Homo sapiens: one gene and its partners. The protein of the gene in region 1 purifies or fractionates together with the protein of each later gene. This does not show direct contact. Each region holds a gene or a part of one and is shown in the gene's direction. Other genes may lie near its edges. The genes, in order: CFDP1, RAB18 and REC8.

Region 1 (3,752 bases):
CCCGGGAGGCGGAGCTTGCAGTGAGCCGAGATTGCGCCACTGCACTCCAGCCTGGGCGACAGAGCGAGACTCCGTTTCAAAACCAAACCAAAACAAAACAAACCCAAACAAACAAAAAACAAAACAAAACAAAACAAAAAACCCTTGAAGGCAAGGTTTCTGCCCTGGAGACAGTGTTCAGCTTCTGGGATGAAGCAGTTGTGGAACCAATCAGACATCATCCACACTTTTTTGTTCCACCTCCAATAGACTGGCAGATGGTTCACGTATTTCCCGTTAAGTGCTTGTGGATTTTGGGTTCTTTACACCATTAGGAGTTTGCACTTTAGTCGCTCTTGGCATTGGCGCACAATAACAAGGGTGCATGATCCTGGCATGATTTAAAGCCAGGGGCTTTGGAGGCCGTTTGCATTATATAGGTTCGTTTGCCAACATCCTTGTAAAATAAGCCAGTCTCATCCGCATTGAAAACCTGCTCTTTCACATAACCCTTTTCCTGTATAACACTTAGCAAGTATTTTTAAAATTCTTCCGCAGCCTCCTGATCTGCAGAGCTCGCCTCACCTGCAAGTTTAACATTTTTCACCCCGTATCGCCTTTTGAAACGCGCGAGCCGGCCAGCACTCGCCGAGAAGGGCTTAGCATTTCTTTGACTCTGGGTAACGTGACCACAGATATCTTTGGCTTTCAGCCTCACCACAATGCTGTCCACTATGTTTTTTTTAATCGATTGACATCTCATGAATCCACAAATTTAGCCGCTTTTCCATCTTTTCCATCTTTGTCATAGCTTCATCACGCACGATGGAGGTCACTTCAGCACTATCCGGAGCGGCCTCACGGACAGATCGGTGAATTTCCTTTTCCTTTTTCTTGATGTACCGGATTGTCGACTCGTTAACATTGAGCTCATGGCCAACAGCACTGTAACTCATGCCTGATTGGAGCTTATCCAACACGCGGACTTTCTCCGTAAGGCACATCACGGTCTTCTTTCGCTTAGGAACACTGGGCAGAGCTTAAGCACTACGCTTGGGGGCCATTTTAGAAAGCAAAACCACCCACAAAAAGCAGAAAAAAAAGTGTCAGTAAACAGACTGCGGAAAGGACTCTTTGTTTACAGCACAGGAGCTGCGACTAGAAGGCGGCGCTTCTCCCAGTTCAAACTTCAGCTGGGAACCTTACCTCCGCCAACTCCAAATTTTCACCCTCTGCGCATGCCCGGGAAGAACCCCAGACAGTACCGTGATGATTGATTTTAGGGTTACAAATACATTTTAGCAAGTAAGTGAATTTGGCATTACGAATTAATGATTAATGAAGGTCACCTGTATTTCCATAGATATGTAATTTTATTTAAGCAGGTTTATTATATTAAGGCGGCGAGGCAGCGCCGAAGACTACAAGTTCCAGCATGCACCGCGTCCGGGCGGGTTCGGGCTCCCAGCGAGGGCTTCAGGGACGCCAGCCCGGAGGCATCGGCCGGAAGTGTCGTAGGGCAACCACGTAGTACTCTCTGCGCATGTGCAAAGCGCTGTCGGGGGCCGCCCTAGCTGCCGTCGCCGCCGCCGGGGCTCTATGGTCTCTCCCTAGAGCTTTGCCGTTGGAGGCGGCTGCTGCGGTCTTGTGAGTTTGACCAGCGTCGAGCGGCAGCAACATGGAGGAATTCGACTCCGAAGACTTCTCTACGTCGGAGGAGGACGAGGACTACGTGCCGTCGGGTGAGCGATTCCGCCTGAGGCGAGAAGCGAATTGCCCCGCCCCACGCCTCACGTGAGGCGCGCTCTGCCCCCGCGGGCGTCTGCCCTGTGGCCCAGGTGGTCCAGGGGGGCTCCTGTTCTCGAGCGTCCGCTCCCTCAGGCCCCTCATCCTCGGCCGCTCCGGCCCGAGGCGTGTGCGCGTGGCGGTTCTGTGCTCCCCTCCCGTTGGGCAGCTCCGGCCGCCGCCCCCTCTTGCAGCGCGGGAACCGGCACATGGACACGGCCCCTTGTCGCTAGGGACGCTCGTCGGTCAGCCCCGAACGACACCGCTGCTTCAGAAGTCGGGGCGGCAGTCCGAGCCTTGGAGGTTTTTTTCAGCCCTGGCCCGAGAGAGCTGCTGGCCACCACCCCGTCCAAGATAGAGCTGTCCGCTCTCCGCCTGGTTGTTAGAAAGTTCTGATAGAAAGTTCCCCCTTTGATGCTTTTTGCCTCATTGTGACGTCCACCCATCCTCTCCTCTCAGAACTTTCTTTCCTTAGGGATCTCAACCCGAACGGGGTGAGAATGAATCTTACTGAAGAAATCTTTCTGTTCCCCCTTCTTGGTCTTCCCCAGACAAACCGTCTCGTTGAAAGTATCTTCACCCATTCACATCTTCAGTTGAAAGACTAGACAAACAAGAAACAAACAGACTAACAAAACACAACCCAGGAGTCGTCCCTATTCTCTTTGTTTTACTTTGTTCTGTTCTGTTTTATTTAAAGACAGGGTCTTGCTGTTGTCTAGGCTGGAGTGCAGTGATGCGATCTTGGCTCACTGCAACCTCAGACTCCTGGGCTCAAGCGATCCTCCCGTCTCAGCCTCTGGAGTAGCTGGGACTGCAGGTGCAGGCTGCCACGCCCGCTAATTTTTTAAATTTTTTTTTTTTTTTTTTTTTTTAGAAATGGCATCTTGCTATGTTGCCCAGGCTGGTCTCGAACTCGTGGGCTCAAGTGATCCTCCCACCTCAGCCACCCAAAGTGCTGGGATTACAGGCATGAGCCACCGCGCCCCGGCTAGTGAAGTATTTCTAAAAGGCACGTTGAAAACTAGCCATTCCATTCCTGGCGCGGTGGCTCATGCTTGTAATCCCAACACTTTGGGAGGCTGAGGTGGGTGGATCACAAGGTCTGGAGATCGAGACCATCCTGGACAACATGGTAAAACCCCGTCTGTACTAAAAACACAAAAATTAGCTGGGCATGGTGGCACGCGCCTGTAGTCCCAGCTCCTCAGGAGGCTGGAGCAGGAGAATCGCTTGAACTCGGGAGGTGGAGGTTGCAGTGAGCCGAGATCACACCACTGCACTCCAGCCTGGGTGACAGAGCGAGACTCCGTCTCAAAAAAAAAAAAAAAAAAGTTAGCCAGTCCCATCACCCTCATCCCTATTTTATTTAATATTCCTCAGGAGAAACTTCTTTCCACCTTTTGAATTTGGTATTATATTTCTGTTGTCTATTGATTTAACCCATGTATAGTAGGTATCATTTTTAGTAGCCCCTGACCTCCTTCCCCTCATCCCAAACACACACACAAACACTTCCACCTTCGGGGCCTCCCCAACTCCGTAGTCTGCCGTTGAACCTGTGTCCAGTTTTAGTTAGATCAGTATTCAGTGTTTTTTTTTCTTTCGAGACAGTGTCTCGCTCTGTGGCTCAGGCTGGAGTGCAGTGGCACAGTCTCTGCTTAATGCGGCCTCTGCCTTCCCGGTTCAAGCAGTTCTGCCTCAGCCTCCTAAGTAGGTGGGATTACAGGCGCCCGCCAGCACACCCGATCGATTTTCTTTTCTTTTCTTTTTTTTTTTTTTTTTTTTTTTGAGACAAGAGTTTTGCTCTGTCTCCCAGGCTGGAGTGCAGTAGCGGGATCTCGTCTCACTGCAAGCTCTGCCTCCCGGGTTCACGCCATTCTCTTGCCTCAGCCTCCTGAGTAGCTGGGACTACAGGTCCCCGCCAGCACACCCGAATGATTTTTTTGTATTTTTAGTAGAGACGAAGTTACACCATGTTGGCCAGG
Region 2 (3,652 bases), on another chromosome or scaffold:
TTTAATATGTATTAAGACTTGTTTTGTAGCCAACATATGGCCTATCCTGGAGAATGTTTCATGTATACTTGAAAAAAATTTGTTGTTATACGGAGTATTCTGTTGGCTCTAATTGGCCTTCAAACCCTTTGTTTTCTGTTGATAATATATCTCAGTACACTATTCATAATTGGAAGTGGTGTATTAAAATCTCCGACTGTTTATCCTGTGAAAAAGACACTTTCACATGCATGTTTATAGCAGCACAATTCACAATTGCAAAAATATGGAACCAGCCCAAATGCCCATCAATCAATGAGTAGATAAAATGTGGCATATGCATACCATGGAATACCACTCAGCCATAAAAAGGAACAAAATAATGACATTTGCAGCAAACTGGCTGGAACTGGAGATCATTATTCTAAGTGAAGTAACTCAGGAATGGAAAACCAAACATTGTATGTTCTCATTTATAAGTGATAGCTAAGCTATGAAGACACAAAGGCATAAGAATGATACAGTGGAACTTGGGGACTCGGGGAAGGGTGGGAGAGGGATGAGGGATTTAAAAAACTACACATTGGGTACAGTGCACACTGCCCGGTTGATGGGTGCACCAAAATCTCGGAAATTACCCTAAAGAACTTATCCATGTAACCACATACCACCTCTTCCTAAAAACCTATTGAAATAAAAAAAAAATAGGATAAAGTATATGGGAGGATTTAAAAAAAAAACAAGAGGGTGATGTGCTCTGGTTCTGCAGGGAGAGGAAGGGGAGACGCATGGAAGCTCCGTGTTTGGGACCCTCCCAGACCTCATCCTTATGTGTTTCTCTTTTTGGTTGGTCCTGATATTGTATCCTTTGTAATGAAACTGTAATTGTAAAAATCTAAATAAAATGTAATTTGTGGGGAAAAAAAAGACGTTTTGGAATTCAGTCAGGCAATAAAAATAATCAGTATTTTCAGTGGAGGGCTTGTGTTTAGGAAAATAAATAAATAAATAAATAGAATCTCTGATGGTTGTAACACTATTTTTCCATTTAATTCTATCAAGTGTTTGCTTTGTATATATTGGACTTCTGTTCTGTGGTGTATATGTTTATAATTGTTGTATCTTCTTGAGAATTGGCCTTTTTATCAAAATATTTTGTTTTAGTCTCCTAACAGTTTTTGACTTAAAGTCTATTTTGTCTGATTTTAGAATAATTACCTTTGCTATCTTTTGGTTACTATTTGTATGGAATATCTTTTCCTGTCCTTTCACTCTCAACCTATATTTGTTTCTAGACCAAAAGTGAATCTCTGATAGAAAGCATGTAGTTGAATTTTTAAAAAGTATTCTGCCAATCTTTTGATAGGAGAGTTTATTCTATTTGCATTTAATATACCAATAAGGAAGGACTTCTGCCATTTTGCTATTTATTTCCTTAAAGAGTTTTTGTTCCTGAATTCTTACCATTACTGCCTTCTTATCTGTTTAGGGATTTTTCATAATAATATGCTTTGACTCTCTTCACATTTCCTTTTTTATCTATATTCTATATATATTTTCTTTGTGATCTATTTCAGTAAATTCTGGTAGCTTTTAATCTTTCAAGGAAATTGTCCATTTTTATCTGAATTGTCAAATTTATTGGCATAAACTTGTTCATAACATTCTGTCATTCCTTTAACTTCTGTACAATCTATAAATGGTGTGATTTTTTTCATCCTTTGTAATGATTTTTTTTGTCTTCTTTTTCCTGATCAATTTGACTAGAAGTTTATCAGTTTTATTGGTTTTCTTTTAGAAGCAACTTTTGGATTCATTGATTTTTGTTGTTGTTTTTCTGTTTTTAATTTCTGGTTTGAACTTTATTTTCTTTCTTCTACTTCTTCGGATTTAATTTGCTGCTTTTTCTATTGTCTTAGTTTAGAAGCCTAGGTCATTGATTTTAGATCACTTGTCTTTTCTAATATGGGTGTTTAGTGCTATAAATGTTCCTATTAAGTATTGCTTAAGTGGCATCATACAAATTTTGATGTTGTTTTTCTTTTTGTTTAAAATATTTAATTTAAAATACTTAGAACAATTTCATTATGATGTCTCCGAGTTTTTCTTCTTCTTTTTTTTTTTTTTTTTTTTTTTGCTAGGGGCTTATTGAGCTTTTTTGATCTGTGGATTTATATTTTTCATCAAATTTGAAATTTTTCAGCCATTATTTCTCAGATATATTTTCCCCCCTTCTCTCTTCTTTTTCCTCAACTCCATTGTTTGCATAATAGGCTGCTTGAAGTTGTCCCACAGATGATTGATGGTCTCTCATTTTCTTTGAACCTTTTCTTTCTGCTTCCTTTTGGGTAGTTTCTGTTGCTGTGTCATCACATTCACTGATGTTTTCTTCTGCAGCGCCTAATTTGCTGTTAATCCCATCCAGTGTATTTTTCATCTCAGACATTGCCATTTTTACCTTTTTTTTTTTTTTTTTTTGAGACAGGGTCTTGCTCTGTTATCCAGGCTGGGCTGCAGTAGCACAACCACGGCACATTTCAGCCTCGACCTTTCAGGCTCGATCCATCCTTGTACCTCAGCCTCCTGAGAAGCTGGGACTACAGGCGCAAGCCACCATGCCTGGCTAATTTTAAAAGTTTATTTTTGGCTGGGTGCGGTGGCTCACGCCTATAATCGCAGCACTTTGGGAGGCCGAGGCGGGCGGATCACGAGGTCAGGAGATTGAGACCATACTGGCTAACACGGTGAAACCTCGTCTTTACTAAAAATACAAAAAATTAGCCGGGCGTGGTGGCAGGCGCCTGTAGTCCCAGCAGCTTGGGAGGCTGAGGCAGCAGAATGGCATGAACCTGGGAAGCAGAGCTTGCAGTGAGCCAAGATCACTGCCACTGCACTCCAGCCTGGCCAACAGAGCAAGACTCCGTCTCAAAAAAAAAATAAAAATAAAAATTTATTTTTGTCAAGACGAAGTCTCGCTGTTTTGCTGGGGCTGGTCTTAAACTCCTGGCCTCAAGCGATCCTCCCACCTTAGCCTCTCAAAGTGTTGGAATTACAGGCGTGAGCCACTGTGCCCAGCCCATTTTCATCTTTAGAAAGTTCTGTTTGATCCTTTTTTATGTCACTCATGTCTACTTTTTGAACATGTGGTGTACAGTTGTAACATCTGTGTCAGTTCTGAGTCAGTTTCTATTGATTGATTTTTCTCCTCTTCAACAAGATGTGTGCTTCTGCTTCCATTAATATCTTCTGGTCTCCCATTCACATATATCTACTGTTGAGTTCATATTTTCTTTGGCCTTTTTCATGAAGGTTATTTTAGTTAAAACTAGATAATATAGTTAATGGAGCCTTTGAAATAAGCAGTAAGTGCAACATGAAAATTTACCAGTGTGCCTAAAAAAAGATTCTTGCAAAGAAACTGAATTAAAGATCATATTAAAAATGCAAACACAAATGAACAAGGAAAAGCTGAGATGACAGTTCTTCTGTTTCTGTTGTGAGCTCCATGTTATCCACATGAAGAGATTGAAGACACAGTTTAATCAAATTGGGTAAGAAACTGGCAAAATCAAATCTCTCAAAAAGACTCCCACTGCTGCTACCAATTAAGATAAATTATCAGCCACTTAACAAAAGAGAAGCATGATGAAGAAGCAGTTTTAGCATGTGAGAT
Region 3 (2,989 bases), on another chromosome or scaffold:
TCACCCAGGCTGGAGTGCAGTGGCTCAATCTCAGCTCACTGCAATCTCTGCTTCCCAGGTTCAAGCAATTCTCCTGTCTCCGCCTCTCAAGTAGCTGGAATTACAGGCACTGCTACCAAGCCCGGCTAATTTTTGTATTTTTAGTAGAAATCAGGTTTCACGATGTTGGCCAGGCTGGTCTGGAACTCCTGACATCAAGTGATCCACCCACCTCAGCCTCCCAAAGTGCTGGGATTACAGACATGAGCCACCGAGCCCGGCCTTCTTGCACAAATTGATGAGGGCTAGATAACTGGGGTGCGGGTTGGGGAGGGAGGTGAGAACAGGAACTGAGGAAAGAAGACCAGAGGGCGGGTGAGTTTACTGCAAGCTGATGTCAATGCAACAAGAATTAGGCATAAAAGGAGATTACCGTGCATTGTTGAAGAAGGCTGTGAAAAGTGGGAAAGCAGGGGGCTGAAGCTGAACCCTATCTTTTGTTTCCAATCCCTCTCCAAAGATTCGACACCTCTTAGAGGCTGCAATCCCAGAGAGAGTTGAAGAGATCCCTCCTGAAGTTCCTACAGAGCCCAGGGAGCCAGGTCAGCAGAGAGAACCTTCTTTCTGGTGAGAGGCATAGGCAGGCCCAAGAGCTGTAGAAATGACCATTTTTGAGCTTAAGAGCCAGGCCTTGTGAGGGGCGCTTTTTTTTTTTTTCGAGGCAGAGTCTCACTCTGTTGCCCAGGCTACAGTGCAGTGGCACGATCTCGGCTCACTGCAAGCAATTGTCCCGCCTCAGCCTCCCTAGTAGCTGGGATTACAGATGTGCACTACCATGCCCGGCGAATTTTTGTATTTTTAGTAGAGATGGGGTTTCACCATGTTGGCCAGGCTGGTCTCAAACTCCTGACCTCAGGTGATCCACCCGCCTCGGCCTCCCAAAGTGCTAGGATTACAGGTGTGAGCCACCGTGCCTGGTGAGGGGCATTTTATGTGTATAACCTCATCAGTACCTCACAAGAGTCCTCTGAGGTCAGATTTCTTATCCTTTTTTTTTTTTGAGAGATGGGGTATCACTCTCTAGCCCAGGCTGGAGTACAGTGGTGCACTTTAGGCTCACTGCAACCTCCGCCTCCCGGATTCAAGCAATTCTCCTTCCTAGTAGCTGGGATTACAGGCATGCACCACCACGCCCAGCTAATTTTCGTATTTTTAGTAGAGATGGGTTTTTGCCATGTTGGCCAGGCTGGTCTCAAACTTCTGACCTCAGTTGATCCACCCACCTCAGCCTCCCAAAGTGCTGGGATTACAGGCGTGAGCCACCATACTCGGCTTTTTTTTTTTTTTTTTCTTTTTTTCCCAGGCTGGAGTGCAGTGGTATGATGATCATAGGTCACTGCAGCCTTGACCTCCAGGGCTCAAGCAATCCTCCCACCTCAGCCTCCAGAGTAGCTGGGACCACAAGGATAAGCCACCACACCTGGCTAGTTTTTAAATTTTTTGTAGAGACAGGGTCTCGCTATGTTGCCCAGGCTGGCCTCAAACTCCTGGGCTCAAGCGATCCAAAGTGTTGGGATTACAGGTGTGAGCCACTTCGCCCAGCCTCCCCACTTTACCGATGAGGAAAGTGAGGCTCACAGTGGTTAAGCAGTGTACCCAGGGTCAGGATGCCAGAGATTAGCCTGGGTCTGATTAGAATCCAGGTTACCTTGACTTCAGAGTCCATGCTTTTCCTTAACTGCATGGCTGTGGGAATTTGGAAAGAAGCAGAGAGGCTAGTGACTCTCTTGTCCCTCCAGAGAGGATTCCGGTCACTGTGCTGCCACCTGAGGCCATCACGATCCTGGAGGCAGAGCCCATACGGATGCTGGAGATTGAGGTGAGTTCCCCTGCACACAGGGCCTGAGGTCCAGCCCCCTTGCATGTACTTCTCTCTGTCCCCAGAGTCCTGCCTTTTCTGTCTCCATTTCCCTATTCTCTGTCCCTGGCACTTGAGCACCCAGTGGCTTCCTTGAACCTGGCCCTGTGGCATGCCTCTGGGATCCACTCTCCTGGATCCACTTGCCTTTTTCAGAAATATTATTGAATCCCCTCCCCTTGCTCTTCCTCTCTGGACAGGGTGAACGGGAGCTCCCAGAGGTCAGCCGCCGAGAACTGGACCTGCTGATCGCAGAGGAAGAAGAAGCTATCTTGTTAGAAAGTAGGTGTCTCCGGCAGCGTAGGGCCCGCCTGGAGCTGGATAGTCAGACCCCTGGCGTGGGCATTCTGGGACTGGGCAATGCTCCCATTTCTCTTTTTCTGTCCTCTGAACTCTGATTCTCTCTCCACAGTCCCGCGGCTCCCACCTCCAGCTCCTGCAGAGTAAGGGCAAGAACTCCTAGACCAGGTAGGGTGTCAGTGCTGGGAAGGGTCTCCTCATTTCTCTTGCCCATTTCCCCTCAGGGTGGAAGGAATAGGAGAGGCACTGGGTCCTGAGGAGCTGAGGCTGACAGGCTGGGAACCTGGGGCCCTACTCATGGGTGAGTGCCCACCATGCCCCAGGGGCTTTTCTGGGAGTACCTGGATACTGCTGCAGACAAGGGCTTTATATCCCAACTTGCTAAAGGGAGGACCCTGCAGTTTCTTGCCCTGGCATCTGCAAGGGGTAAGGGGCTTATGGGACAGAGCCCCTTGGGTGTTGTTGCAGAGGTGACCCCCCCGGAGGAGCTGCGTCTGCCAGCCCCACCCAGCCCAGAGGTGAGTAGCCTCCCTTCTAATCCTCCTCCTCCTCCTCTTTGCCCTCCCCCACAAGGACTGCCTCCCCAAGCCCAGGGCCACTGCTAGCTTACAGGGGTCCTTAATGCAGATGATAAAAGATGCCCCTTTCTACGCCCCATCGTATCTGGCCTACGCTTCCCAGATGGGTACCCTTATGCAAGGTATGAGCTGCTCAAGTGCATGGAGACCCCGCACAAGCCCTCTCCAGGTTCCTCTAGGGGCGGGTGTGGGGTCCTGTTAGCAGTCCACCAGA

What was found.
Region 2: the proteins of CFDP1 (region 1) and RAB18 purify together in Homo sapiens (co-immunoprecipitation; one large-scale study listed by IntAct). This does not show direct contact.
Region 3: the proteins of CFDP1 (region 1) and REC8 purify together in Homo sapiens (affinity purification with mass spectrometry; one large-scale study listed by BioGRID and IntAct). This does not show direct contact.

What each region holds. Positions count from the first base shown.
Region 1 is NC_000016.10:75,431,258-75,435,009, reverse strand, and holds the start of CFDP1 (craniofacial development protein 1), read left to right. Parts: upstream 1-1,506; 5' UTR 1,507-1,657; coding exon 1,658-1,721; intron 1,722-3,752. UniProt on the Homo sapiens protein: May play a role during embryogenesis.
Region 2 is NC_000010.11:27,521,174-27,524,825, forward strand, and holds part of RAB18 (ras-related protein Rab-18), read left to right. Parts: intron 1-3,652. UniProt on the Homo sapiens protein: The small GTPases Rab are key regulators of intracellular membrane trafficking, from the formation of transport vesicles to their fusion with membranes.
Region 3 is NC_000014.9:24,175,044-24,178,032, forward strand, and holds part of REC8 (meiotic recombination protein REC8 homolog), read left to right. Parts: intron 1-499; coding exon 500-581; intron 582-1,778; coding exon 1,779-1,858; intron 1,859-2,097; coding exon 2,098-2,179; intron 2,180-2,309; coding exon 2,310-2,340; intron 2,341-2,421; coding exon 2,422-2,498; intron 2,499-2,665; coding exon 2,666-2,715; coding exon of another isoform or gene 2,716-2,802; exon of another isoform or gene 2,803-2,834; coding exon of another isoform or gene 2,835-2,897; exon of another isoform or gene 2,898-2,989. UniProt on the Homo sapiens protein: Required during meiosis for separation of sister chromatids and homologous chromosomes.